2 linked regions of the Homo sapiens genome follow. The protein of the gene in region 2 purifies or fractionates together with the protein of the main gene of each other region. This does not show direct contact. Each region holds a gene or a part of one and is shown on either strand. Other genes may lie near its edges. The genes, in order: ABCD3 and PEX3.

Region 1 (15,496 bases), on a different chromosome or scaffold from region 2:
GCAAGGCTCCGTCTCAAAAAAAAAAAAAAAATTTGCTGGTACAAAGGCACTGAAGCAGGAATGTAGCTATCCTATTCAAAAAAAAAAAAAAAAAAAAAAAAAAAAACAGAAACAAGGCTGATTTTACTGAAGAATGAACAGGAAAGAAGAATAGTAGGAAATGAGATCAGAGATGTATCAGGTAGGGGTAGGGTAGTGGCAGGCATTGAAAGAACTTCGACTTTTACTGTGACAAAATGGAGAGCCATCAGCATTGTTCACAATAGCCAAAAGGTGGAAGCAAGGAAGCGACCCAAGAGGATGAATGGATAAACAAAATGTGACACACACACACACACACACACACACAATGAAATGGCATTCAACCTTTAAAATGAATGAAACTCTGACACATGCTACAATACAGATGAACCTTGAAAACATTATGCTAAATGAAATAAGCCAGCCACAAAAGGACAAATGCTGTATGACTTCACTTATATGTGATTCCTAGAGCAGTCAAATTCATAGACAGACAGCATGAGAGGTTACCAGGGGCAAGGGAGAGGAAGGAAGGAGAGTTACTGTTTAATGAGTACAGAGTTTCTATTTGGGATGATGGAAAAGTTCTGGAAATGGATAGTGGTGGTGGCTGCATAACACTGTAAATGTACTTAATGCCACTAAATTATACACTTAGAAATGGTTAAAAAGCCAAATTTCATTTTTACATTTTAAAAACTTCTTAAAGAAAAAAGAATGAAGCAGCCTAACACATAGTTGATCTAAAAGAAAATAACAATTTACACACATAATTGTTAAAGAGTCGTTCAGATGAATAAACTTTTTTCTGATAAAGAATCATTTTGATAGACTTCTTTTTAAATAACACAATTTCCTTATCACATAAAATTGAATATACTGAATGTTCCTCATAAAGCAAGGTTATCATATAAAATAATCATACTCTACTGTAACAGCGATGCCCTTAGAAGGTCCTAAAGTTCAGTGAGCTGGTAATTAAATGGTTCCCTGCTACGTTTTATTTGAGTAATGTTGGCCGTATATAAATTCTCCCCTCCTAACTGCTCTTTGTGGTTTACAATGGCATCAATATTCCTGCCTCCAATAATACCCTTCCACATTATTTGTTGCAGTATGCCAGGAAACCCCAAAAACAGATTTGTAATGATGTATATAAATAATAACCAGACTTACTGAAATCCTGAGTTATCCTTTTATGCTCTAAATCAAGCCTGGCTAACCTACTCAGCATTCACTTTTCTTTACTTCACGGCATTTGGTAGTGTTGAACAAAACTTCCAATTATGACGTCAGCCATGATAAGCCAGTGATAATTTTTCTGTATTAAAAATTTATTAAGTACATATTTTTGTGGGGTTAAATTAAGACTAAAAGCCAAGAGTAACATTTACTGAAAATTAAGTTCTTAACAGCATTGTATTATTGGGGCTCTCAGAATGCTTTACCGGATCAACCAATGCTTTGAACTACCATATTCTTACCAATAAAAATATACCCCCCAAATAATACTCCTTGATAAATCCTACTTTCTATAAATTTATCATAACAAATAAAAAATTCTACACATAAATTTAAGTAAAAGAAAAATTATATAAAAGTATGGTGTTTATGAAGATTAATTAGTTTCTTTAAACACTATAAGTATACCTTACTGAAAAGGTAAAAATCTTAGTAACTTACAAAGTACTTGTTTTTGGAGACAGGATCTCACTCTGTAGCCCAGACTGGAGTATAGTGGTGCGATCTCCGCTCACTGCAACCTCTGCCTCACTGGCACAAGCGATCCTCCCACCTCAGCCGCCTGCGTAACCAGGACCAAAGGTGTGCACCACCACACCTAGCTAATTTTTTTGTATTTTTCACAGAGACGGGGTTTTGCCATGTTGCCCAGGCTGGCCTCAAACTCCTGAGCTCAAGCAATCCGCCCACCTTGGACAAAGTACTATTTTAATCCCCACATGGTAACCTGCAAGCTGTTACCTCTTAGGATCTCTCCAGTCTACATACTTCCCAGAATAATATCTAGACAGATAAATATGTCTGTACTGGGGAGTTTATAATGGAAAATGGTATAAAATCTCTTATTCCAAAGAAGTTTTTATTATTTGGTTACAAATGTAACCCAAAAGGCAAATGAATCATAAAGTAGGAAAGATTTATTTGAGGGGCCAAGTCTGTTTTATTATGCCTCTTTCCAAGAGAAAGAAATCTTTATTTTCAAGTAAGCCAGATGAGTAGAAAATAATTAGAGGCTGCAAAGAACTGAAGAACATTTGTTGATTATAGAAAGGCTATGTTAAGAAAAACAATAAAAAGACATAATGAATGTGAGAAACCCAGGTCTACTTTAGAATACTTTAAGTCAGAAAGAGATTAGAATTCATAACAGTGAACCAAAAAGAAGTCAGAGAAACAGTTCCCAGGGGAGGAGAAAACAAGAATCACAGGATAAACACCAGGAAGTAAGGAACATGGTTATGAAGTAAAACACTCCAACAAGTAAGGACATAAGTGGGGACTCAAGACTTTCCAAATGAAACCCAAAAAAGAGAAAGAATTAAAGACATTTTTTTCCCTTTGTCACTTTTCAACATAATGAGTATCATAATAAACTCATTAATTTAAACATTTTGATGTATTTTAATACAGGGTAGTTATTGTTCTTTTTTTAATTTTATTATTATTATACTTTAAGTTTTAGGGTACATGTGCACAATGTGCAGGTTAGTTACATATGTATACATGTGACATGCTGGTGTGCTGCACCCATTAACTTGTCATTTAGCATTAGGTATATCTCCTAATGCTATCCCTCCCCCAGGACCCCACCCCACAACAGTCCCCAGAGTGTGATGTTCCCCTTCCTGTGTCCATGTGTTCTCATTGTTCAATTCCCACCTATGAGTGAGAATATGCGGTGTTTGGTTTTTTGTCCTTGCGATAGTTTACTGAGAATGATGATTTCCAATTTCATCCATGTCCCTACAAAGGACATGAACTCATCATTTTTTTATGGCTGCATAGTATTCCATGGTGTATATGTGCCACATTTTCTTTATCCAGTCTATCATTGTTGGACATTTGGGTTGGTTCCAAGTCTTTGCTATTGTGAATAGTGCCGCAATAAACATACGTGTGCATGTGTCTTTATAGCAGCATGATTTATAGTCCTTTGGGTATATACCCAGTAATGGGATGGCTGGGTCAAATGGTATTTCTAGTTCTAGATCCCTGAGGAATCCCCACACTGACTTCCACAATGGTTGAACTAGTTTACAGTCCCACCAACAGTGTAAAAGTGTTCCTATTTCTCCACATCCTCTCCAGCACCTGTTGTTTCCTGACTTTTTAATGATTGCCATTCTAACTGGTGTGAGATGTTATCTCACTGTGGTTTTGATTTGCATTTCTCTGATGGCCAGTGATGGTGAGCATTGTTTCATGTGTTTTTTGGCTGCATAAATGTCTTCTTTTGAGAAGTGTCTGTTCATGTCCTTCGCCCACTTTTTGATGGGGTTGTTTTTTTCTTGTAAATTTGTTTGAGTTCATTGTAGATTCTGGATATTAGCCCTTTGTCAGATGAGTAGGTTGCGAAAATTTTCTCCCATTTTGTAGGCTGCCTGTTCACTCTGATGGTAGTTTCTTTTGCTGTGCAGAAGCTCTTTAGTTTAATTAGATCCCATTTGTCAATTTTGGCTTTTGTTGCCATTGCTTTTGGTGTTTTAGACATGAAGTCCTTGCCCATGCCTATGTCCTGAATGGTAATGCCTAGGTTTTCTTCTAGGACATTTTTAAGACTATAAAAGTGAAATTATAGAAACGACAGAAGTCTATTCAATACAAACATAAGGGCTTTAAAAGAAAAGGCTTTGAACTAAAAAGAAAGTGACAGCTTTAGTGTGGTAACATCAAGACAAAATATTATTATGGACCATAATCATGATCCATCTATTCTAAGTATCCCAACCCCCTTTCTCATTGTGCTTCAGTCATGTGTGCCCCTATATTATTGGTATATTTTATTTCTGCATAAAGACAGAAGTGAGGGTAAGTAGGAGAAAGGGACAAGAGGCATTCTTCAACGAAGTCTCACGTCCTTTTTATCCTTGGACAGTGGCAATAAAGGGGCTACTGGAAATCAAGCCTGGCTACCTACTTTGCCAAAGGAACATTCAAGTGACTGAAGTACCTGGAGCTATGTGAGAAAACACTTCTGTGATATGTGGAGCCAGTCAATATTTACCAACTACATTTACATTTTCTGTACTTCTTGTATTTCCTGGCTTTGGAATAAATATGATAACGATAGAATACTCATTGTTGAATAAGTTCAAAGTACTTTGCATAACTAACAATTTTCATTTTTATAATTCATTGAGAAGAAAGTAGACATGTGCTTAATATAAATTACTAAGAGCAGAAAACTGAAGACTTACTTAAGACTGTAACAAATTAAAAACAAGTCCAATAATTATATTCTTTATTTTATAAACTATCAGACAATATTCCTTCAAAGAAAGCAGTAGGAAAAAAATCCCCACATGAAACACAAACTACAGATGGCCATGCACATTAGCATGTGGAGAGGAATTCTAGAGCTGTGCTGTCCAATACCATAGCCACTACTCACATGTGGCTATTTAATTTTAAATCATATTAATTAAATTAAATTTTAAATTCAGTTTTGCAGCTGTACTAGTCACATTTCACATGCTCAATATCTACACATGGTTATTTTACTGGACAGTGAAAGTATAGAGCATTTCCATCATTGCAGAAAGTTCTACGGGAAAGTGTTGTTCTAGAGGAATGGTGTCTAGAATGGGGAACATAGCCTATGTGATAGGAATTTGTTACTAATTATGAAGATTTCTGGATCTGAACCATTCATAAAGCCACAACATAGAGAAAACCTAAATAGTAACCCTTAAATCTGCGAGTCTTACAAATCGTACAAAAACATTCATCTTTTGTCTTTTCTTTTTAATTTGGTCTGCCATATCCCATTTCATTAGCAGAGTATATTGAATCAACATCAGTTTTCACTTGGCATGGGATTTTACTTGTTTTAGGTGAGTGTCTATTTGTAGCGCTACTGTGCGGCTCTTCCCGTTTTCATCAGTAATAAAACAGTCTGTATTTTGTTTTTATAGGTACAAATCATCCTGTACAGTCACAACAATACCAGCCACACCATAAGTTTCTTTTTAATGTAAAGAGACTAAAATTATATTTGTGTGTTTAAATACTCATTTTACACTGGAGACTCCAATTTACTATATTTTCTATGACTTTCTTGACATAAACTTCATTTGCAAAAAGTTTTTTGGTAGTAGTATTTGAAATTTTGAAGTCCTGTCAATTAAGAAAAATAGATTTCTAAGCGTTTCAAAGACTTACTTTTTAAAGCAATTCTGTGGATTCAGAGACTAAGTCGAGCCTTAAAGTTACTTTAAATATTCAGGTAATCTTTTTCAGTTCACATTTTAAAGATGATTTAAGCTTTTATATGATCATTTAAAAACTTACTTCAAAATTAAGGTCTCGGATCAAAACATCTCCATTTGGCGTTGCTAAAGGAACATGATCAAACCTATAGAGGAAATTTTTAAAAAGAGAATTACTTTAAAGTATATAAGGAACTAATACAACTCAATACCAAAAATACAAATAACCTGATTAAAAAATGGGCAAAGAGCTTAAACACTTCTTAAAAGAAGAAATTCAGATGGCCAACAGGCATACGAAAAGGTGCTCAACATCTCAGTCATCAGGAAAATGCAAATCAAAACCACAATGAGACATCACCTCTCACCTGTTAGGATGACTATTATCAAAGAGACAAACGGTAAGTGTTGGCAAAGATGTGGAGAAAGGAAACCTTGTACATTGTTGGTGGGACTACAAATAGTACAGCTATTATGGAAAACAATATGGATGTTCCTCAAAAAATTAAAATTAGGACTACCGTATGATCTAGCAATCCCACTTCTGGGAACATTTCCAAAGGAAATAAAATCAGTATCTCAAAGAGAATCTTCCTCCCATGTTCACTCCAGCATTATTTACAATAGTCCATATATGGAAACTGCCTAAATGTCTTTCAACTGATGAGAGGATAAAGAAAATATAGTGTGTACAGTGTGTATATATTCACATACACACAAAATACACACAATAGAATATTACCCCACTTTTAAAAAAGAAGGAAACTGGGCCATTTTCAACATAGATGGATCTGGAGGACATTATGCTAAGCAAAATAAGCAAGACACAAAAAGAGAAACACTATGTGATCTTACTTGTATGTGGAATCTAAAATAGTCAAACTCATAGAAGTAGAGAGTAGGACGGTGGTTGCCAGGGGGTTAGAGAGAGAGGAAATGGGGGTAATATTGGTCAAATGGCACAACATTTCAGTGATGCCAGAAGAATAAATTCTGTAGATCCACTGTACTGGGACAATAGTAGAAAATACTATATTGTATACCTGAAATTTGCTAAGACACATCTAAATTAAATTCTCACTAAACACACACAAAAATGGTTAACTATGTAGAGGCGATAGGTAAATTAATTAGCCAAAACGTAATCATTTCACAACATACACAGATATCAAAGCATCAAGTTGCATACTTTAAATATTAATATACACAATTTTTAGGTCAATGATACCTCTAAGCTGTTTTTTAAAAAAGCAGAAATAATTTTAAACACTAAGCAATTGTAAGCTGAAAAAGAAAGACTACTATGAAGTTTAACAAACATTTATGGTGCTAAAAGACCTTTTTCTGTACGTACTTTATAATGTTATCTGCAATAATGATTTCTCCAGCACCAGGTATCAAGGGAATGACTTGTACTCCTTCAATACCTTAAATGGAAAATAGGTATTAAAGCATCATATTATGTCAGCAAACACTTAAAATTGTGACCTTAAACTGTGACACTCATATTTACCCTTTTCCTGTTGTGAGACCATTGTGCGCTCATATTTGCCATGATTTAAATCCTTCAGTACTTGCATTAATTCTGTAATCCGAGCAGTAAAACTAAAATTTTAGAAAAGGAAACCATAATCAAAACTCCAGACTATTGTCACATCTTTTATTTTATACAAACTGAAGTTCCTAAAATTATAATTTAGTATAAATGAAGTAACCTAACAGTCTCATCAACATAAAGTATTAATGATAACATGTGTGCTTTATTATGTTTCAGTAGGAGAGCAGGAATATAGGGATGAAGGAAGAGGTTTCCATAGGATCCCCAACTCAACAGATACTTCATTAATAGCCAAGTCAAGGCAGTTATTTGCTGAGAATTTTCAGGAGGTTTCTCTTGGATACTACAAAAGGACCACTACTAGTATATTCCTTAGACCCAGGAAGTATGGACTCTGATCTCTTGCTGAAGTGACCTATAAAGCCATGTATAAAGCTGGTCTTTCTATCCAAGGAAGGCATTTATTAAATGTATGCCGAATGCATGCTGCCTTCCTGCAAACGGAAGAATCTGAAAGATTCCCTCTTTCTTACTCTGAAGAGGGGAAAGATGATGAGTTCTTATTATTAGATAGAAATCACTGTGGCAATAGAGAAAAATCAAAACTAACGACAAGAGGTTGGAGATAACAAAAATGACCATGATCGCCAAAGAGAAAGTATTCTGCATCGAAGAAGAAAACAGGATTTTTCTCTGAATAAAAAGCAGAAACCTCCTAAAGCAAACTTTGGGAGGTGATGAATGTTTATGGTCTTGATGGTTTCACACGTGTATAACTTATTCCCATATTCATCAAATTGTATACACTAAATATGAACAGTTTCTTATATGTCAATCATACCTCAACAAAGTGGAAAAAAGAGAAAGAAAGGGGGGCAGGGAGACGAAGGGAGGGAGTGAAAGAGAAAGACACACACACCCACACAGAAAGAGAGCGAGAGAGAGAGAGAGAGTGAAAGGAAACACCCTAAAGGAACAGAAGCACCTTATATACCATGAACTGTAAAGCCATAAGAAAAGTTAACAAGTAGGAAGAATGTTAGTATTCTCATGAAAGAGACTCTACTCATAGTAGTTAACAACTTCTATATTGCATGAAGACCATAACTGCCACAGGAGCTAAGAAGGAGGAAAAAGAGAAATATGAAGATGGATCACAGGCCTAGGAAAGATATTCAGTCATCAAACTTCTTCAGGTGACCTAAAATTTATGGTGTTTTTTACACCATACCATGCCCTTTATATTGGAGATTGAAATACTGAAATCTTAATATTTAATTTCATTCTACTGTCTAAAGATAATTTTACTACTAGATAATATGACTACATTCACAAGCACGCCTACAGATACAAGATAACATCTCATTTTTTTTCCCATTAAAGTCAACTTCATTTCTATTCATCTGTTTTGCTAGGTTGCCGGTATCTAAGATCCAAGAAAAAAAGGTATGGTAGAGGACAAGAAAATTTAAATGAGAAAATTCTATTCATAAACATAGTTTTCTGTGAATTAAGACTGCCATGATTCAACATTTCCCAACTTAGCAAATACGTGTCCATGGAGCAAACAACTTGACAGCCTCTAATCTACTGTACTGCGCAAACCAGCTGTCCTCAAGAAACATGAAAAGTTCACCATCAGAAAAATCTTCCTTAATTTTCTATCAAAACCACCTTCCTGGGCTAGGAAATGTTGACCCCTTATCTTAATCTCAACTGATACAATCATTAAGGATAATATATTTTTAAAAATTATTTTCTGCAACAGCTCATTATTACTAATCTTACCCGGCCAATCTAGTCATTTCACGCCCAGCCAAAACTATTCGACCCAGAGCTTGAGACATTCGCAAAAGCATTCTTCCACTTTGGTAGTAATCCTTAAATAGAAATAAATATTAGTTTTTACTTATAGTTCTATGACTAAAAATTTGGCTTTATTTTTACTGTTACATTTTCATTGTATTATCATCAGTTTACCTCTAGAAGTTCCGAATGTGTACTCTTGAGATGTCGAGGATGAGACAAATCTAAGAAAGGGCGACTGACAACTAGGTAACCAACAACAGTGGCAAGGTCTGAAACCAAACAGGTAAGATTTAAAACAGTAACAGTATTTCACCTTTTCCACAAATCTCATCTCTTTCAAAATATACTTACATTTGGCAATAATACTATCAATGAAGCCCATTGAAAACCGAAACAAAATGAAATTATGTAGGTGTTCCACCTGGCAGAAAACAAAAACAAAAAACCATCTTTTTCTCTGTATAAAAAACTGAATCTACTATAAGGATAAAACAAACTGTATAGTTCATTTATTCAACAAATATTTACTGAGTGCCCGTGATTTCTGTTTATATTCTGTTTATATTGTACATCACACCACCGAGGACAATGCTCTTCACAGAGCGGGTGCCAAACAAACACTTCATGAAACCATTTTTATGCAAACAGCATGGAAATTACATAAACAATTTTAACAATGCTGTTTCTCTTGCATGCAATAGCACAATGCTATTGTAGTCACCATGCTTTTGGATACACATATCCCAAAAGAGGACAACAACGAAAGCAAAAAGAACAGAGATTAACTAGTTTGAGTGAAACACTAGCTGTCCGGATTGGCACTGAATGCTTTGCTTTCAGTGGAGACACATGGTCTGTGCTTTATCTAAGAATTGTATTACACCCAATCTGAACTGAGTGCTAATGTAAATCAGTGCCACACAGCCTCAGTTTTAGCTTTAACATGAGCACGCATTGTCTTAAAACTACAAGTCTAAAACTGCTTTTTTATTCTGGAGTTGTAGTGTTCTCAAACTGTCCATCTACCAGATTATTCAAGGTCCTGCATGATCTGGCACTGAGCTCTATTTTTAAGGTCATATGCTTCTACTTTGCTCCTCCTCACCAAGCTCCAGAAATAACGGTTTCTCAAACATGTACCTTCTTAAGGATTTCCTCTTGCTCTTCTCACTGCCAGGAATACATTCTTCTAAGGTATCTATATTTTGTGACTCCTTCACTTTCATGTGGATTTCTGACTAAATGTCACCTCCTCAAGAAAGATCTTGGCCATTCCAGCTAAAGTAGCTGGGCAATAGCCCCCTTCATATCTATCCCTTTATCCTGCTTCATTTTTGGCCACCGAATTCATTACTACCTGAAATTATACAGAACATCTAGTTGTTTATTTATTGTCTGCTCCACTAAAATGTGGCTTCCTGAGTACAGGGTAGCTTGTTAACAACTTGGTATCTTCTGCAACTAGACAATCTCTGGAACATTTATTCAATGACTACCATGTGTCAGACACTGTGCTCAAGCTGGAGATACAATGAATAGAACAGAGAAGGTCCCTGAATTTATGGAGTTTACATTCTAATGAAAGAGCATAACTAGTAAACAAGATAATTAGAGACTGTAATACAGTCATCCCTCGGTATCCAAAGGGGATGGGATTGGTTCCAGGACCTTCTGGATACCAAAATCCATGGATGCTCAAGTCCCTGATGAAAAATGGCATAGTATTTGCATATACCTGAGTACGACATCCCATACACTTTATTTACTTTTTGAGACAGAGTCTCACTCTGTCGCCAAGGCTGGAGTGCAGTGGTGCCATCTTGGCTCAATGCAACCTCCGCCTCCTGGGTTCCAGTGATTCTCCTGCCTCAGCCTCCCGAGTAGCTGGGATTATAGGCCCCCGCCACAACAACCGGCTAATTTTTGTATTTTTAGTAGAGATGGGGTTTTGCCATGTTGGTCAGGCTGGTCTCGAACTCCTGACCTCAACTGATCTGCCCGCCTCAGCCTCCCAAAGTGCTGGGATTACAGGGGTGAGCCACCGCAACTGGCTCATCCCAAACACTTTAAGTCATCTCTAAATTACTTATAAAACTTAATACAATGTAAATAGCTATTACACTAATGTCTGTATTGTTCAGAGAATAATGACAAGAAAAAAATATGTGTACATAAGTACAGACACAATTTCTTTTTCTGAATATTTTCAATCTGTGTGGTTGAATCCATGGATTTGGAACCCACAGATGCAGAGGGTTGACTGCAAATATATATATACTTTTAAGGAAAGATGATGATTAAAACAAGAAGTAACTGTTGGAGGCCATTTCAAATAGGCTGATCAGAGAAGACAAAGCTTCAATAAGGTGTTAACATTTGGGCTGAAAATCTAAAGGATGAGAATAAGCAAGCCGTGTGGAGAGCAAACTGGTGAACTGCAGGCCCCTGAAAAATTACCTTAAATGCATTCTACCAGTGAGCACTCTAAAAGTTCTGCCATGTTAAATACCGACGAGGCAAAAATCCAATTTCTGAAATAATTTAAAATGACAATTTCTTTAACCTCTTTAACTCATCTAAAATATACATTTAATTTCACAAACTTCAGACTTCCACTAAAATGTAAGCTCCTTAAAGGCAAGATTTTATCCATCATGTCCACCACCATCATCCTTAGCACCTGGAGTGAGCACAGGCAACTAGACGGCATTCAATATCTTTTGAATAAATAATGGAATAAAAGTACTTGAATTCAAATTTTCCAAGTGGCAATTAAATAAAAACTGAAGTAAAGCTTTCACAAGAAACAATGCTTATATTCTTTAAAACAAAAAGCCAGTAAACTCTGACCCATAGTCCAAATCTAGCCTGCTACTTGTTTTTTTAAGTAAAGTTTTATTAGAACATAGCCACACCCACTCATTCATGTATTATATATAGCTACTCTTGAGTAGCGGAGCTGAATAGTTGCAAGACACTGTGTGGTATGAAAAGCCTAAAATATATACATACTATCTTGCCCTTTATGGAAAAAGTTTGCTGACTCTTGCTTTACATAATAATCTTTATTGTATTTTCATGAATGCTTCAGGAACAAATTCTTTCTGTGGGAATCACTAAATAAGGCTCCTAAGCAACCTCTGTAAAAATACACTTAATTTTTTTTTTATGTTTTTGATTATACTTTAAGTTCTAGGGTACATGTGCACAACGTGCAGGTTTGTTACATATGCATGCATTTGCCATGTTGGTGTGCTGCACTCATTAAGTCGTCATTTACATTAGGTATATCTCCTAATGCTATCCCTCCCCCAGGCCCCCACCCCACAACAGGCCCCGGTGTGTGGTGTTCCCCACCCTGGGTCCAGGTGTTCTCATTGTTCAATTCCCACCTATGAGTGAGAACATGCAGTGTTTGGTTTTCCGTCCTTGCAACAGTTTGCTCAGAATGATGGTTGCCAGCTGCATCCATGTCCCCACAAAGGACATGAACTCATAATTTTTATGGCTGCATAGTATTCCATGGTGTATATGTGCCACATTTTCTTTGTCCAGTCTATCACTGATGGACATTCGGGTTGGTTCCAAGTCTTTGCTATTGTGAATAGTGCCACAATAAACGTATGTGTGCATGTGTCTTTATAGCAGCATGATTATAATCCTTTGGGTATATACCCAGTAATGGGATGGTTGGGTCAAATGGTGTTTCTAGTTCTAGATCCCTGAGGAATTGCCACACTGTCTTCCACAATGGTTGAACTAGTTTACAGTCCCACCAACAGTGTAAAAGTGTTCCTATTTCTCCACATCCTCTCCAGCACGTTGTTTCCTGACTTTTCAATGATCGCCATTCTAACTGGTGTGAGATAGTGTCTCACTGTGGTTTTGATTTGCATTTCTCTGATGGCCAGCGATGATGAGCATTTTTTCACGTGTCTGTTGGCTGCATAAATGTCTTCTTTTCAGAAGTGTCTGTTCATATCCTTTGCCCACTTTTTGATGGGGTTGTTTTTTTCTTGTAAATTTGTTTAAGTTCTTTGTAGATTCTGGATATTAGCCCTTTGTCAGATGGGTAGATTGCAAAAAATTTCTCCCATTCTGTAGGTTGCCTGTTCACTCTGATGGTAGTTTCTTTTGCTGTGCAGAAGCTCTTTAGTTTAATTAGATCCCATTTGTCAATTTTGGCTTTTGTTGCCATTGCTTTTGGTGTTTTAGACATGAAGTCCTTGCCCATGCCTATGTCCTGAATGGTATTGCCTAGGTTTTCTTCTAGGGTTTTTATGGTTTTAGGTCTGACATTTAAGTCTTTAATCCATCTTGAATTAATTTTTATATAAGGTGTAAGGAAGGGATCCAGTTTCAGCTTTCTACATATGGCTAGCCAGTTTTCCCAGCACCATTTATTAAACAGGGAATCCTTTCCTCATTTCTTGTTTTTGTCAGGTTTGTCAAAGATCAGATGGTACACTTAATATTATTTTAATAAATCTATGCAATTTTATAAATGGGCACTTGAATATATTGATATGATAGTTTTTAATCTCATATTTTTTATTAAAAATGCAGTATAAAATCCTTTATAGCTATTTTTCAAAAAATCTTTAAGATATGTATACATACGTGTGTGTTTGTGTGTGTGTGTATGTGTGTCGGCCATAGGCAAAACAAACAAACAAAAAAAACCCTTTCCATAAACACATGAACCTCAAGTGTGTTATCTTACCAGTTTTCGGAAGACTGAGTGGACTGTCTGCTTTTCTCTTTTATTCCCATTGTAAAAGGCAATTTCTTCACTATTAAAGAAAATAATTTAGCAATTAATTTTAATGTTACCTATGCTTGGAAAATAATTGAAATACAGTATATGATGGCTGAATGTTTGTATTTAAATGGACATTTTGTGACTAAGAGCTTATCTGGTGCATCTCAAGCCACAGTCTATACCTGAGATTCTGTTCCTAGCTCAGCTGATCGGAGCACAGGAATACACTCCTGACTGAATCATATGCTGGACTGCAACCTATGGCATAGGTATCCTGGCTGCAAAAGACATACTGCACGAATTCTCAGAAATTCGAAATTAGAGAAAGAAGTTGCTGTGATGTACAGAAAGGCAGGGCTGGGACCAACATTGCAGACTTCAAGTTAAAGTACAGGCCCAAACAAGAAAGAGATGAAAAAGCAACAGCTAGAAAAAGATGGATAGTGATGACTTGACATACAGCCTTTTAAAGACAGAAAAGCAGGCTAAGTCCCACCGGCTTCAAAGTGCCAGCTCCCAGGAGGAAACCCTGGAACCCCATCATATCCTCACAACAATTCCACGTTTCCTGAGCAGATGTGCATGGGTCCACAAGGGCCACAGGGATCACGACTAGAAAAAAAAGGTATTTTATAGATGAAGAGAAGTTCAGTGTAGTTAAGTAAATTTGTAAAGGTTGCAGAGCCAGCAGGTCAGGGAGCTGAAATCATAACTCCTATCTGACCCTAACATTTATAGTCTTTCTATTACACAGGAATGATGTAAGCTTTCCCAGCAAAGTACCTCTTATGGCAGAGAAAAATATTTATAGAGAAGTCTAGAAGGCAAGGTTGAAATATTTCTTTAAAGTCTCTTTTTTCCCCTAAACAATTTATGTTTTATATTTCTATTTTGAAATGGACCTGCGTTTTTCATAAAAACAAGGTACCACCTACCTCAACCACTTCAAGTAAAATTAACTTCCCATAAGATATGACACATTTGTCACGCGTTTCATGGTTTCCTTGACACAATGACAGAGACTCAAGAGTATAAGAAGCCTACAATTCTATACCTCTAATTACTTTTTAAAAAAACTTCCTTCTATCTCCTCTCCACACCTAAGCCTATGGAAGAAGATGAGGTGAGGATTCTCCTCCTGAACTGAGTCATTTTAGCCTTAATGAAAAATCTGAAAGGATAAAACATCCTGGAATATTGATGGCTGCCCATCCAACATCTATTCTCTTCATTGTTCTTCTTCCTAAAATAATCCCAACTTTTGTAAAGTTATCTATTATTTTCCATGTACCCTAATGCTTTAGGAATGCCTCAACCCCATTTAGGGTCCCAACTGGTCTAAGCCAATCACTTTGCTGTGATTGCTTTAGGCATGGTCAAGTAACCATTCCAGCCAATAAGATATGAGGGAAAGTCAGTTGTGGGACTCTTGGGAAAGGTTTCTTTGCTCTCATAAAGACACACCAGGCGAGATGGCCCCTTTTTGTTTCTGGAGCTTTCTGCAGGGGAGAGGAGCTAGTGAAATCTGTAACTGCTATCGCCATCTTGTGGTCACAAGAAGAATTAGCCCGAGGAATGGGGCAGCATACAAAGCAGGGCAGAGCCAAGAGAACACCAGAGAGCCAGAGCCCTGATAATGCCATACCTGGAACTGCCCTGTCTTAAGGGTTCTCACGTGAAGCAGTGAGTGTTCTTATTACTGGAGCCATGAGTCATGCTTTCTGCTTCTTTCACTAAAAGGCATCTTTCATTTACTTGGCAAATCACCTCTTAACTCTATTCCGCTGCCTCCCTAGAGCAAAAAACCCTATTTAAAACTTGTACTATTTTAGCAATCCAAGGAAATAAAGGAAGAGGGAACTGTCATTTGCAAATGCCTATAGAGTAGAATATTAA
Region 2 (15,496 bases):
CAAAAAATGCAGAATGTGCAGAAAGCTAATTTGGAAAGTTTCACTGAACCTATATTTTGGCTCTTAGAGATTAAATATTTTACTTTTAATTGCCTATAGTCAGCTATTTGTTCATCTTAGGGTTGCATCATGGAAACGTGTGACCCCTATCTTTTGCTGGAGGAGCATACATAATTGACAACCCCATCTGCCACTGCTCTGGATCCATCACCATGTTTGCACTGCTCCCAGCCAATGACACTGCTTGTATGGGCACAGTAAAGCAGGCCCATTTCTGCAGGTCTCCTCTACCAGAAACTTTGGCTTGCAGACTCTTCATGGTCTCCCAATGCTTTCTTAGAACTGTGCTGTAGTCTGAGACTCTTCTTGCCTAATCTTTCTTCCTTCCTTGTCTTTTTCCCTTCACAAATGTCAGACCTGCACTGTGGCCTAAATGCTTCGCTTGCCTTCTTCTGCCTCCCTTCCCCTTTATCCTTTACAGGCATTTCTACTAGTAGATCTCTTGTACATCTAATCCCATCCTAGCATCTGCTTCCCAGGGGACCCAAACTGACACAAGGGTCCATGTCAAACTGCGATGTATTTTAAGACCCCAGCAGCTACATTTTACTTTTTTTTTTTTTTTTTTTTGAGACAGAGTTTCACTCTTGTTGCCCAGGCTGGAGTGCAATGGTGTGATGTCAGCTCACCGCAACCTCCACCTAACAGGTTCAAGTGATTCTCCTGCCTCAGCCTCCCAAGTAGTTGGGATTACAGGCATGCAACACCACGCCCGGCTAATTTTGTATTTTTAGTGGAGATGGGGTTTCTCCACGTTGGTCAGGCTGGTCTCAAATTCCTAACCTCAGGTGATCCACCAGCCTCGGCCTCCCAAAGTGCTGGGATTACAGGCGTGAGCCACCATGCCTGGCCCATTTTATTATTTTTTGAAAATTCAAATAATAAGCAGAAATGGACCATTCCCTAAAAATTCATTAAAATGTCCTAGGCAGTGGCAATATATTGAATGCTAAATGTAAATTTAAAAAGTTATCATTTACCAAGTATTTATCATACATCAAGCACTGTATAGGCATTATCTCATCACGGCCTCACAAAACATTTATGAAGTGGCTTTTATAATGTTCATTTTACTCTCAGAATTGTCATTATGTATAGTATTTATGATTACTATTCGCTTTGCAGAATGAAGGTATTTTTCTGAGTATTACTACTTCAAATATTAAAAATCATACTCCAATTGTAATTTTGGATGTGCCTCTTACCCTTCTTAATCTCAGCCTCAAGTAAAATGAGGTAAGTAAACTAATAATAAAGGCCTTTAACTCTAAAAAATTTCTAATTTTAAAATTAAATAAGGAGAATGTACCTTTATAAATTGTTTCTAAATTAATTGTTCTTGAAAGAATGTTAGAGAAATGAGTAAGCTTTAAACAATAGAAAAGAAAAACAGGCTTTGCATGGATTTGAGAACTAATTCTTCAGTTATGCCAGTTAGGACACACTGTTCTCTTCAAATATGGGCAGGTTGATTTTGTGATGGCATTCTCCCAGGACTATGTTTCTAGCTCTGGAGGTTAAATTATTGCCATTAATTAACATTGCCTGAGTGTATACTATTGTGGACGACTCACAGGTCTATAGTTGCCTACTGTAAATTTAATAAACTTAATGACTCTTTCCTATGGCCCACAGGCCCGATGGGATCAAGCCTACTTCTGCAGCCTTGTTTCCTATCACTGCCATTGTTCATTCTGCTCTAGCTACATGGCCTTTTTGCTGTGTCCTGAGAGTACCAAGCTTGTTCCCGCCTCAGGCATTTCACATGGCTCCCTCCATTGTAACATTTGGTTTCTGCTCAAATGTTACCTCAAAGAAACCTGACTCTACTGATCCCCTGTCTTAAAGAACGTTCCAGCCCTCACATGGCTTTATGTTCCATATGGCAGCCATCACTGCCTAAAGTTACTTATTTGTTGTTTATCATCTTTTCCTCTCCCTAGAATATAAACTCCAAAGGTCAGGGGCTTTTTGTTGTTGTTGTTCACTTCCTGCTTCCCCAGGCCTGGATACAAGTATTTGCTAAATGAATAAATAAAATGAATGAACTGATTTTTAAAATTCACATTAAAATGATGTAATTCAGTTAAATCATTCAAACACTTGCTAGATTTACCATCTTTTCTTTGCCTTTTCCTCTAAATTTGATCCCGGTGATATGCAAATTAATACAACCGTCAAACAACTTTACACATGTATAAATATTTCTCTGTCTTACCTGTCATATTGCAAGTCCTCTGGTTACTTTCAAAATGATATTGTCGTCGTGCTTGGGCAATGTATTCTGCAGCCTCCCTTTCCTGTATTTCTCTGATTTTCTTCTGTCCATATTTCCCCAGAATATATACTCCTACAATCATTAAAAAAGTACTATATTCATTAGAGTACCAAAAATTCTACACAGTATTTTTAACCTACTTTATGCAATTATAAGTTTTATATTAGTGGATAGCTAAAATTACATTTTTAAAACCTAAATAAAGAATTTTGTAAGATTGGCCCAAAGAAAAGGAAATTAGCATTTTTACAGCCAATGACAGAGGAAATGATGGGCACATAAGGACCAGGTTTGAGGAAGGGAAAGGAATTAAATCTAAAAAGTCTGGCAGTGCCTTTACTAGTAGACTAGAGATATTCTACATGTCCAGCAATGGAGAATTGTTTAAATAAATGATAGTCTAGCCATACAACGAAATCTTATGTAGTTATTAAAAACCACATTGCTAAATAATGACTCAAGGAAATATCCATGTTATACTGTTAGGTGATAAAATAAGATCCCAGAAATGTTACTTTTTTTAATGGAAACAGATACAAAAAATAGGTGAGTTTTAATTTCTAAAATATAACAAACAATGATCATTGCTGAATGGTGGGATAACAGGTCATTTTGTCCTCTATATTTTCTTCAATGAACACAAAATGCTTTTTAAAACTATAAGATAAAAATTTTAAAAGGAACAATGAAAGAAAGGTAGTTAGTCAGGCAGAAGTCTATTTATCCATCCATGTGTTAGAAAAATCTCTTTGAGATAAGGAGAGAAAATACAACTCTCTCATCTAAAAATTAGTAACTTAACTGGAAAAAAAAGAGGGAAGAGGGTACAGAAACTCCTAAATTCTAACACCACAGGATAAGAATATAGGTGGTGTCATGTGGCCTGTGATTTAACAGATTTCAGCATAGGCAGTATGATATATATGTGTACATTTTAGTCTATATCTGAGGGGCAGTCAGTTTTCCTAGCTGGGAATGTGAACATTCCAGAGTGGTTAGTTAGCCACACTTGATCAAAAGCCACATTCCAAAGCTTAAGCTCTTCAACTAGCTTTTATCACTGATTTAGCACCAAATATTTTTGATTAGCATAATGATTATCAGGAATGGATTTTCATAGATTAATGGTTTTCAAGATACTGGACTAGCTAAAACATTTTAGTAATATTCATATGAACTAGAATATACAAATCAAGCAAGTCCTTCACCTTTGCCTGGGATCCTTAGCCGCTAGTTCAAAGGATTCTTAGTCAACTGAGTTAACCAGGTAGCCAACCAAATCCTACAGCTAGAATATTGTTGCATTTTCTTCAGGTAAATCTTTTATAAGCAGTTCTGCGGTAGCATGAAACAAGGGCAGAACACTGGGACTTCAATAAGCTTACAGAACAGGTTGTGTTACTTTTAATCTCTGTTTGCCAGTAGATGTTTTTAAGTGTGCCAGAACTTGGTTTCATTATAACCTGAGAGCAAGGCTGTAAGGAATTAACTAATGCTCACCTACCTCCCACTGTCTGTGACCCCCAGTATCTACTAAACATAACCTAAGAATTGTGCATGACCTAAGTAATTAGATTTGGTCTGTCACAGGTAGAAAGTGGGTAGCCCTCTAGCAACTGCAAAACAAATACATATCCTGAATTATTTTCACTAATACAGGTGCTATAGGTGAACTGATAAGATATTACATATTCTTAAAAATAGTAGTTCAGTAAAAGGGTATGTGCTAAAAACAATTAGAACTACAGTATGATTGCTGTTGCTATGTTTATATGCAATTAATGTATTATAACCAAGCTTAAAGAAGAAATGAGAGTTCATATAAGTGGCTACATGGCTACCTTTCCTGTACTCCATTCTAAAGAAACTGATGATAGTGCTACAATACCAACAAAGGAAACTGACTTACATTTCACAAAGTTACTCTATGACAGGCAATTCTGACATAATAGATCTGAAGGAATTGTTTGTATCTTATTTGCACAACAGCTTACTGAAAGTTACATGTAAAATGATTATTTCTCAAATTATACTGTAAAATCAACACTAAGATGACACTTTTTGCACAGCTAAGAATTTTTTTCTTTAACAATAGTAAATTTGATTGGTGTGTTTCTCTGGGGAGAAGGTCCACTGCTTTAATCAGAGTCTCAACAAATCTGATGATTTTTTTTAGGAACTGCTATTTAACACATTTCAGCATAGGCAGTATGATATAAGTGTGTACATTTGGTCTATATCTGAGGGGAAGTCAGTTTTCCTGAGTGCGAAATTTTCCTGAACGTGAAATCAGAATGTGAACATTACAGAGTAGTTAGTTAGCCACACTTTGATATTCTAACTAAACTAAAAAAGAAAATGAATTGCCATGGGAGCCCCAACACCTCAGAATGTGACCTTATTTGGAAATAGAATCTTTACAGTGGTAATCAAGTTAAAATGAGGTCATTAGGGTGGGTCCTAATTCAATAAGACTTGTCCTTATAAAAGGAAACTTGGACATCGACAATTGCAGAGGGAAGACAAAGCAAAAACAGAGGAGATGCCTATCTATGAGCCATGGTGAGAGGGTTGGAATAGATCTTTCCCTTACACTCTGCAGAAGGAACCAATCCTGATCTTAGACTTCTAAATTTCAGGATTGTAAGATAATACATTTCTGCTGCTTAAGCCGCCCATTTTGTGGTACTTGGAAATCAGGCTAAAATCACACAATCCATTATTTTTCTTGATTTTAGCACTGAACTAAGTTCTTATACAAGGTCTAATTCATCCAGGCTCATAAATTCTGATTTTGTCAGATTTGTTCCCTTAGAAAAATAAGAATGAGGACAGGTAATTCATTAGCTAAAACATGGAGCTCATGACTATCTATATACTCGACTGGCAGCCTAGCCTGGAAAACAGGAGATATTGACGGCTCTGGTATCAAGTAGTTATGTGACTTTTGAGAAAGTCCCTTCCTCCCTCTGTGTCTAAATTTCTTCATCCTCAATATGAAAGACTGGGATTATATGAGCTTTAATGTTTCTTTTGTAGCTATGACTTTATGTATTAACAATGAAAATATTTACTAAATACCTTAAAAAATAAATGTCAAATGCTTTGAGTTTTCCATTAATAACATTACTAGAAAATAAGACTTCTAGTCTTTCCACAATTCAGTTGTTTTAAAACCATCTCTTAGTCTTCTCTTTCTGGATGAAAATCCCTACAATGCAACTATTTCACAAGGTTAATAATTTCAAAAAAAGTTTGAAAATAACCTATTGTTCCCAATCCAACAGATCACAAAATCCTACTACAGTATTCTGATTCTATTTCAGACACATTTTCTAAATCTTGCCAATTATCTACAACTTCTTTATCACTGTCACCACTTAGACTCTAAAAATTAATGCTCTTGAACTGGTTCAATAGGTCCCTAACTCTTCACTTTCTGGTCACACACCTGTTTAACCTATCTTATATATGCAAAGTGATTTTCTAAAACATAAATCTCATATCACTCATGTTTTTAGAATCCTTCAACATCTTGCCATCATTTCTTAATGTGGTTTCCCTGTTCCACTTACATTAGAATCACTTGGGACAATTAAAAATGTAGCCTTTAAAGACACTCCTTGAAAATACCCCTAAATGGGCAGGGCGCGGTGGCTCATGCCTGTAATCCCAGCACTTTGGGAGGCCGAGGTGGGCGGATCACGAGGTCAGGAAATCGAGACCATCCTAGCTAACATGGTGAAACCCCGTCTCTACTAAAAATACAAAAAAAAAAAAAAAAAAAAAAAAAAAAATTAGCCGGGCGTGGTGGCGGGCGCCTGCAGTCCCAGCTACTCAAGAGGCTGAGGCAGGAGAATGGCGTGAACCCAGGAGGCGGAGCTTGCCGTGAGCCGAGATCGAGCCACTGCACTCGAGCCTGGGCGACAGAGCAAGACTCCGTCTCAAAAGAAAAGAAAAGAAAAGAAAAGAAAAGAAAAGAAAATACCCCCAAATGTCTTATCTTGCATGATGCTGCATCCCCAGTACATAAACTCTGACTGGGACTCAGAACGCAATAAATATTTGCTGAATTAAGGAATTCTTGAACTGCACTCTAAACCTAAAGAATCAGAATCTGGAATAAAGGATCCTATGTTTTATTAAGCTCCCTAAGTGATTTTTTTATCCATAGTAAACTCTAGCAAGCACCAATACAAAGGATAATGTCCAAATTATGTAGAATGGCTTCATAAGGCCCTTCACAATCTGTACTCTAGCTACTTTTCCAAGTTAATCTTTTGCCACTTCTCATTTGCATAGCCATAGTGAAATACAGTTTCATTCATAAAAAGCAATGTTGCTGAACCTCTTGAATTGCTCTTTTTCCTTCTGTGTCCTTTCTCCTTTGCTAGCTCTACAACTTAAGCAGAAATTCTTCCTTATGGAGCTTTGCCTGACATCTTCACACTTTCTTCTCATCAATGCTCCCACAACACCCTGCTCTATTTTTGTACTATACTATCATACTACTTTTATTTCCATTTCTGTACCATGAGTTCAAAGTCAGGATCTGTCTTATTCCTTTGTATTTCCAGAGTAAAGTACAGTGAGATCAGTCACTTACTCTCATTCAAATGTTTGTTCAATGACAGAATGAATGAATGAATGAATAAAAAATGTGAAGCCAGAGATTACAGGATTTAAGGTATAAATCCAAGTCAATGTTCTGAGGTTTTCAGAAACCAGTAAGTCAATAAATATCAATCTGGTTGCTCTCTGTTCTCCAAAACTTTTTCCAGTGCAATGGTTCTCAAAGTGTGGCATGGGCACCCCTGGGGTCTTTAAGACCATTTCAGGGAGTCTATAAAATCAAAACTGTTTTCGTAATAATACTAAAATGTTATTTGCCTTTTTCATTCTCATTCTCTCATGCGTATACAGTGGAGTAATTGAGAGGTTACATGATGTGTGATACCACAACTGACAGAATATAGAAAGAGATGAGAATCCAGCTTTCTTCAATTAAGCCAAACATTAAAAAGATTTGCAAAATGTAAAACAATGACACTCATTAATTTTTTGAAAATGTTATGTATGTTAATATGTAATAGGTTTATTATTTTAAAATGAATTAATATTTTAAAAAATTTCATTTTAATTTTGAATATCATAACTATTAATAGATATAAAATTTAGAAAGCTTTTGAGGGTCCTTAATTTTTCAGAGTGTAAAGGAGACCTTAGATCAAAAAGTTTGGGAGTCAATTCTCTAGTCTTTTCACAAACTGGTCAAATTATGCCAGGCTCAGTGGCTCATGCCTGTAATTCCAGCACTTTAGGAGGCTGAGGCAGGACGATTGCTTGAGGCCAGGAGTTCAAGACCAGTCTGAGCAATGTAGTGAGACCCCTGTCTCTACAAAATAATTAAAAATTAGCCAAGCATGATGGTGCACACCTGTGGTCCTAGCTACTTGGGAGGCTGAGGTGAGAGGATCGCATGAGTGAGGAAAGTGTGAAGATGTCAGGCAAATCTTCATAAGGAAGCCTTTCTACTTGCCTTACATTGTAAAGCTAGCAAAGGAGAAAACAAGGCTGCAGTGAGCTACGATCACACCATTGTATTCTAGCGTGGGTAACAGAGCAAGATCCTGTCTGAAAAACAAAAAAACAAAAAAACACAAAACCCGAACACACCCAAACCCCCCAAACTGGTCAAATTATACAAACGCGTAAACCAATTAGTTACCCACCCAAAATCTGAGGAAACAGAAATTGTTACTTAAGAAGGCCTGCTACTCAAGGTTTTACTTACTTACTTCCCCCACTATTGAATGCCCAAACTTCTCTGCGCATGCCTGTTGATATACTACCCAGCTTTCAAGCCTGTCAAAATGTGTCTCTTCTTCCATGAAATTCTTCCTGATTTTTCACAACTGCATATGCTACTTGCCAGTGTGATCTGTACAGCATTTTTTCACCTCTCTTGTTTTTCTGTATCTTAATTACATGTATACTTGCTTTTCCTTCCTATCAGACTATAAAGGCCATGAAAGCACAGTGATATAATATGGAAATAGAATGTGCTTTGTGGTCCAACACACCTGGGTTTGAATTCCAGTTCCCCTTCACTAATTCTGAGACCTGAGGCAAGTTTCTTAAATTCTTAGGGTTCTTGCTGCCACATTTTTGAATGGGGATAATAATAATTGTCTTCTTGTCATTCTGCTTAAATAGGAAGAGCTTAGCACAATGCCCAGCGTAAAGTGGGCACCCAATAAATAGTAGCTGTTACTATTAAAAATATATAAATCTTGTATTTCCATTTATATTACCTTCAGCATTACAGGCACTTGATAGGTATTTCTTAAGTTAGACTAATTAAAATCTAACACACTGTAGAACTTTCTCCCTGAAGCAGAAAGAACATGAGACTCAAACAAATGCCAACCACGGTCATCTACTCTTCCTTTCTTTTCAGACTGACTCCTTTTTTGATATAAAACACTAGGATTATTTTCTCTTTCTGGCCGTCTGAACTTTTCTATTTTTTGCATTCCTCTTATTCTGTAACTATAAAGCTCTTGTTAGTTTTTTAAAAAAATTATAAGTTTAAGTATACTCTTTTGCTTCCCCTGTGATTATTTCTAATCTACTACAAAGTTGTTCCATAAGCTGAAGGAGTATTCCTTCTGAGATCGCTAAAGAGATAATTTTCCTTCCTTCAGTAAACGCAAAAATACTTTATTTGTATTTCTTCAATCACACATATATTTTTAGCTTTTATAAATAAAATGGACTCTGTAGTCTTAGGATAATTTAAATATACATTAGATACTAGCGACTGAAGATATCAGAAAATACCTTTTATATATAAAGGATTTCTCGAAGGTGTTCAAAATTTACATATGCTTATTATTGATGTGTGATAGACCTCAGAGACATGCAAAACACCATCCTTGGCTCAGCAACAAGAACTCTGTTTCAAACTTTCAAGCATCACCAAAATCTGAACTATTGATGCTAAAGGTATTAATTGCAAATTGTTTGGGGAGAACAGAATACAATCTAATACGTACTGTTAATTTCAAATTGTTTGGGGAGAACAGAATACAATCTAATACTAAGAGAAAAGCCAACCAAATTCTTTGGGAAACTCTGTTCTTGATTTTAAGTACTTTTGTAAACATAGCATGTAATAAGTGATGAGACTATTTCTCAAAAACTCAAGTTCTAACAAATTTCCTCTTTTATAGTTCCTAGATGTCCTTTTCATATAATTCACAAAACTTTTATTCCCTCCTTCAAATCCCTGAATATTATCACATGAGCATTGTATGAGGGAAAAGCGTCTCAAGATTTTTATCTTATCTGTTTCTAAATCTCCTCTGGGCCTGTGCAACTCAGTTATGTCAGCTAGATTACAATGATCCCAACCTTGAAGATCCTGAGGAAGATTGCACAACATCCCTCAAGCATTTTTCTTACTGCCATAGTTTGTATTCTAAAATGGCAGAAACAGAGCTAAAATATTGATTTGTTTTTCTTTATCTAATCCATATCTTTCAGTCCTTTAGGACAACTGCGCTGTTTTCAAAAATTCAAATCGACTTTAACCACCACCCGAAGTGCAGCCTATAGGTAACTTCCCTAGATTATTATTAAACTCCTGAGAAGGGTGAGAGCCAAAGTATCAAGAGTGCCAAGGAGAAATGCAGAATCTCACAGGAAAGCAGAATTTTTTTTAAAAAGTTCCTGTAAGAGAATGGTGCCTTGAAACAGAAACTTAAACTGTGATGAGTTCTCCAAAGGTCCGTGAGAAAAAAGGATAGGTGAGAAACAGAGTTAAGAGTCGGTGACAGGGCAAAGGGCACAGAGGCATTTCTCAACTGCAGAGATGGGAGAACCCTGGAGGTTGGCCACCTCCCTTTTCATCCCATGGTTGATCGAACTCCCTCTACATATCCCAGACTAGGATCGCCCGGCCTGTCCTTATTTTAGAAGAAGTCACCTCTCCCACCCCCTTCTCCCAATGCCCCCTTTCAAGCACGTTGTCACCCACCTCCAAGGACCGTGCCCAGGAAGATGCATTTCTTTTTGTGGCGTTTCAGAAAATTCCATACAGACCTCAGCATCTTTAGGCCCTAGGGGTGTGGGCTGACTAGGGGTGAGGGACTGCTTCACCAGGAAACTGTTTCTTCGTCACCTGGCCCAGATGACCCAGCAAGAGCGCCGTCGTCCCGTTCTGTGCTCTCCCGAAATCACAAACGTGACTTTCCGCAGAGACTGTCACCGGAGCGGCAAGGGGGCGTGGACTACAGCAAAGCAGCTACGCTTTCTGCCGCTGCCGCCGCGCAGCCGCCGCCGCTCACTGGTCCGACAAGCCCAGGTCCGTTCAGAAATAGCTCCCGAGTGCCTTTTCATTAGACTACCCCCGGAAACGGGGTCCCGGGCCCGCCGCGTTCCGCTGCCCGCGCTCCTCCTCTGCCGCGGGCTCTGTAGCTGAGTGGTGGCTGGGTATGGAGGCGAAGGCGGCACCCAAGCCAGCTGCAAGCGGCGCGTGCTCGGTGTCGGCAGAGGAGACCGAAAAGTGGATGGAGGAGGCGATGCACATGGTGAGGAGCCCGGGAGGTAGATGCTGCGGGGTGGGACCTTTCTCCAGCCCTCAACCCGACCCCGGCATTTGAGCAAACGTTCTTTCTCGTCACCATAATTTTTATGGCAGTCAGATGTTCTGGGTGAACAACTGGCTTTACTGCCTCGAAACTTTCTGTAGCCCATTCTCACAGTGGCTCTGGGCGAAGGAAGGGGAGGAAATACACAAATTATTTGTTTCATTGCGGTGGAGTATGCTGCAGACTTAACATTCTGTCGCCGGCTGGCACGTGCTGCCTCCCTTTCCTTTCTGTGGTCACACACTCTCCAATCTACAAAGTCACATTATTTGAGGTTTTGGCCCTTGGAACATGTCCAGCAGAAGGAAGGAAACTGAGAACGTTTCTGGTAGAGAGCAGTATGGAAACAAGTCCCTGTACAATCGGCGTCTCGCATTCATTCATTATTTCCTCTGCCCTTTTACTTCCTTCCCTCACTCCCTTCAGGACTGCGAAATAAAGGGGGCTTTCAACAGAATGCTGTGTGCTAGCGAGCTTCTTAACTGGGAAAAAAAGTTTGTTTGTAAATATATGTATTTACATTTTAATAACTACATACAGCCACGTGCCACACAATGACCTGTCGGTAAAGGTCGTTATCCTGGAGCATTAAATCTACTCACCTTAGCCCTATTGTCCCATCCAAGTACTAACCAGGCCTGACCCTGCTTAGCTTCCGAGATCGGGGGACATTCAGGGTGGTATGGAGGTAGACAACCCTAGTTTCTATGTAGACTTCTGGGCTAAACACTTTCGCTACCTTTTAGGTTGACCCTGGGCTAGCACATGTAAATACATTTACATACGTTTACAAACAAACTTTTATCCCAGTTAAGAAGCTCGCTAGCACTTTTCAGCTCCATTATAATCTTATAGGACCACATATACAGCGGTGGTGCTATAGGATTATAATGAAGCTGAAAAGTTCCTGTTGCCCAGTGACATGTAGCCCTCCTAACAAGTACTTTTTTTCCTTTAAGACCTTGAAGAAACTTGTATATGCTAAAACCCAAGAAGCAGCTGCCTCCTTAATCCTGTGTAGGAGGACGTAAACTATGGAATCACATCCCTAGGTGTTTATAATACAATTAAGAGACAAAAAATGTCAAAGCCAGAGAGGTCTAGAAATTCTTTGAAAACATCTACATGTTTAAAAAGATACAAAGTAGCATGGCCAGATGCAGTGGCTCATGCCTGTAATCCCAAAACTTTGGAAGGCAGAAGCAAGAGGATCTCTTGATCTCAAAAGTTGAAGAACAGCCTGGGCAACTTAGCCAGACCCCGTCACTACTAAATAAAAATTTAAAAATTAGTAGGGCATGGTGGCATGTGCCTGTAGTCCCAACTACTCAGGAGGCTGAGGAAGGTGGATTGCTTGAGCCTTGGGAGATTGAGGTCGCAGTGAGCCGTGTCTGTGCCACTGTACTCCAACCTGGGAGACAGAGCCAGACCCTGTCTCAAAAAAGAAAAAGATACAAAGTAAAGGAAATACAAAGAAGGAAAATATTTGCGACATATATAAAAGGACAGGTTTAATAACCGTAGCATATAATTTATATAAAATCTAAGTACTTTCCGACGTAAAAGGAAAGATGTATACCCTAATACTGAAAAAGGTCAAAGGCTATGAATATATTTCTTTTTAAAATTTCTTTTTATTTTTAGAAGATTTTTTTTTGGTTTAGACAGGGTCTCTCTGTGTTGCCCGAGCTGGTCTTGAACTCCTGGGCCCGGGCAGTTGTCCCACCTCAGCCTCCCAAAGTGCTGGGATTACAGGTGTGAGTTACCACACCTCACCTGAACATGATATTTCTAAAAGAAGTGACGAGTGAGTAGCCAGCAAATAAATGAATACACAATTTCACTATTAATGAAATTCAAATTAAAATGATACACAATTTTTTACCTGTTAAATTGGCAAAAGTGAAAGCAATTTTAATGCTTGGTGATAATAAGGGTGTGCATGTTTGAGGTGTTTGTTGGTTGGGAGGAGCTGAATTTAGAAAACCCTTTTTTTTTGTATGTAACATGTATATTACAGTTTTTATTTAATATGCTGATAAAGTTAACTCTAGTTAAGCCAAAGTTGAAAGTTTTAAGTTTAATTTACTTTTTTTAAATTATTATACTTTAAGTTCTAGGGTACATGTGCACAATGTGCAGGTTTGTTACATATGTATACATGTGCCATGTTGGTGTGCTGCACCCATTAACTCGTCATTTACATTAGGTATATCTCCTAATGCTATCCCTCCCCTCTCCCCCCAACCCCATGACAGGCCCCGGTGTGTGATGTTCCCCACCCTGTGTCCAAGTGTTCTCATTGTTCAATTCCCATCTATGAGTGAGAACATGCGGTGTTTGGTTTTCTGTCCTTGTGATAGTTTGCTCAGAATGATGGTTAACAGCTTCATCCATGTCCCTACAAATGAAAAGGATGAACTCATCCTTTTTTATGGCTGCATAGTATTCCATGGTGTATATGAGCCACATTTGCTTAATCCAGTCTATAATTGATGGACATTTGGGTTGAGTTCCAAGTCTTTGCTATTGTGAATAGTGCCTCAATAAACATTCTTGTGCATGTGTCTTTATAGCAGCATGATTTATAATCCTTTGGGTATATGCTCAGTAATGGGATGGCTGGGTCAAATGGCATTTCTAGTTTTAGATCCTTGAGGAATCGCCACACTGTCTTCCACAATGGTTGAACTAGTTTACAGTCCCACCAACAGTGTAAAAGCGTAGAACACCCTTTTATTAGGACAATTTGGCTAGGCAGATATAAAAGGCCTTAAAAGTGAGCTTATCCTTTGATCCAGTAATGCCCTTTTTTTTTTTCCCAAAGTGAAAATATTTTAATGTTTTCTTTTTCTGGTTATGTAAATAATTCATGGTCATAAAAAATTCAAACTATAAAAAAGGGTTAACAAATTATGTAAAAATTACCTAAAAGTCCTACTATTAGAGATAATACTATTAGTATTTTGGGAGCATCCTTCCATATCTCTCTGTCCATATGTAAACAGCCATATGTACTTTTGCATAAATGGAATTATATGTTCTCTTTTTGATTATCAGCAGTTTTTTTTGGTAGTCTTAATATATTAGTCACTCCTCCCTACCTCATGGTATTTCTGTTGCTATGGAGTGACTACCTAAAATGGGACAAAGGATGTATGTGCTTTGAAATTATATAGATATTCCTGTATTGCCTTCTAAAACCATAATGCCTAATATCGTAGCCACTAACCACATGTGTCTATTTAAGTTTAAATTAATTAAGGTGAAATAAAATAAAATCTAGCTCCTCAGTTGTATTAGCCACATTTCAAGTAGTCAGCACCCACATATAACCACTGGCTACCGTATTGGACAGTACAGATCAAAGGACATTTCCATCACTACAAAAGGATCTGTTGGATAGCATATAAGGTTATCAACTTTACTGCTTTTTAATAAAACCATTATTTTTCATGGCAGGTTTCTTTCTGAGAGCTAAGCATAGCATCATCATAGGTTATCATTTTAATCATCATAACATGTTCAGCATAACATTCTAAAGATAGGCTTGGAAAAAAGAAGTATGACTAAGTAATAGTGTTGCACTCTTGGTGTGTTCCAGATACTATGCTATGCACAGTGTTTTCATGTGGGCCATGTTATAAGCCCCACAGAAGCCCTATCAGGTGAGTATTATTATGGTCCTCATTTTCAGATGGGATATTGAAGCTGAGAAAGTTCAGTAACTTCCCCAAAGTTAGAGAGCTGGGAAGGATGGGGCTGTGATTTGAGGCCTGTCATCTGCTGTTAAATACTGGCCTGGCCTGCCTCTCGGTGTTAGGTAGCTCACTGCTTGCCAACATATCCTCTGCTCTCTTTCTTCCTTTTCAGTTTCTTTACCTGAATACTGTGTATCTACTGTGTAATTTAATTGAACATTTAGATTTTTTTCTTCTGTGAATTGCCGAGGCATATACTTTCCCCAATTTTGTAATAGTTTGATTTAAAAAATCGCACTGTAGGAGCTCTTTGTATTTTACAGCTGTTTCTAGGAATAAATCACAAAGAAGCAATATAAATATTTATATAGAGAAGTTCTTTACTTGTTTATAATAGTGAAGAATTTGAATCACTTAAATGTCAAATAATAGGAGACTAGTTGGTTGAATCAGATATGTTCATAAGGAGAAATACTGTACAACCTTTACAAAATCATGTGATGAAAAAATATTACCCAATATAGGGAAAGGTTAACAATACATTTCTAAATGAAAAGGGCAGACTGCTGAACTGTATATACAGTGTAAATCTATTTGACTTTTTAAAAACTGTAAATATGTGTATGCAGGGCATAGGAAAAAACAGAAAAAACCCCCGTTGCTTCAGAATAACAGGGATTATATTTTGGGGTATTGGGATTCTTAGTGGGTTTTTTTTTTTTGATACATGAGGTTTTTTTTTTTTAATCGCTAAGTTCTCCACCTTGAACACATCTTACTTTATAATTAGGAAAAAAGAAAGA

Evidence for each region.
Region 1: the proteins of PEX3 (region 2) and ABCD3 purify together in Homo sapiens (affinity purification with mass spectrometry; 2 studies listed by BioGRID and IntAct, with this or other methods). This does not show direct contact.

Annotation. Positions count from the first base shown.
Region 1 is NC_000001.11:94,481,305-94,496,800, reverse strand, and holds part of ABCD3 (ATP-binding cassette sub-family D member 3), read right to left. Parts: intron 15,370-15,496; exon of another isoform or gene 15,246-15,369; intron 15,227-15,245; exon of another isoform or gene 13,783-15,226; intron 13,632-13,782; coding exon 13,562-13,631; intron 9,260-13,561; coding exon 9,190-9,259; intron 9,108-9,189; coding exon 9,010-9,107; intron 8,910-9,009; coding exon 8,818-8,909; intron 7,077-8,817; coding exon 6,985-7,076; intron 6,899-6,984; coding exon 6,826-6,898; intron 5,618-6,825; coding exon 5,554-5,617; intron 1-5,553. UniProt on the Homo sapiens protein: Broad substrate specificity ATP-dependent transporter of the ATP-binding cassette (ABC) family that catalyzes the transport of long-chain fatty acids (LCFA)-CoA, dicarboxylic acids-CoA, long-branched-chain fatty acids-CoA and bile acids from the cytosol to the peroxisome lumen for beta-oxydation.
Region 2 is NC_000006.12:143,445,999-143,461,494, reverse strand, and holds the start of PEX3 (peroxisomal biogenesis factor 3), read right to left. Parts: upstream 10,691-15,496; 5' UTR 10,453-10,690; coding exon 10,380-10,452; intron 2,411-10,379; coding exon 2,279-2,410; intron 1-2,278. Other genes in the region: ADAT2 (tRNA-specific adenosine deaminase 2), read left to right, coding at 10,837-10,932, 14,597-14,660. UniProt on the Homo sapiens protein: Involved in peroxisome biosynthesis and integrity. Assembles membrane vesicles before the matrix proteins are translocated. As a docking factor for PEX19, is necessary for the import of peroxisomal membrane proteins in the peroxisomes.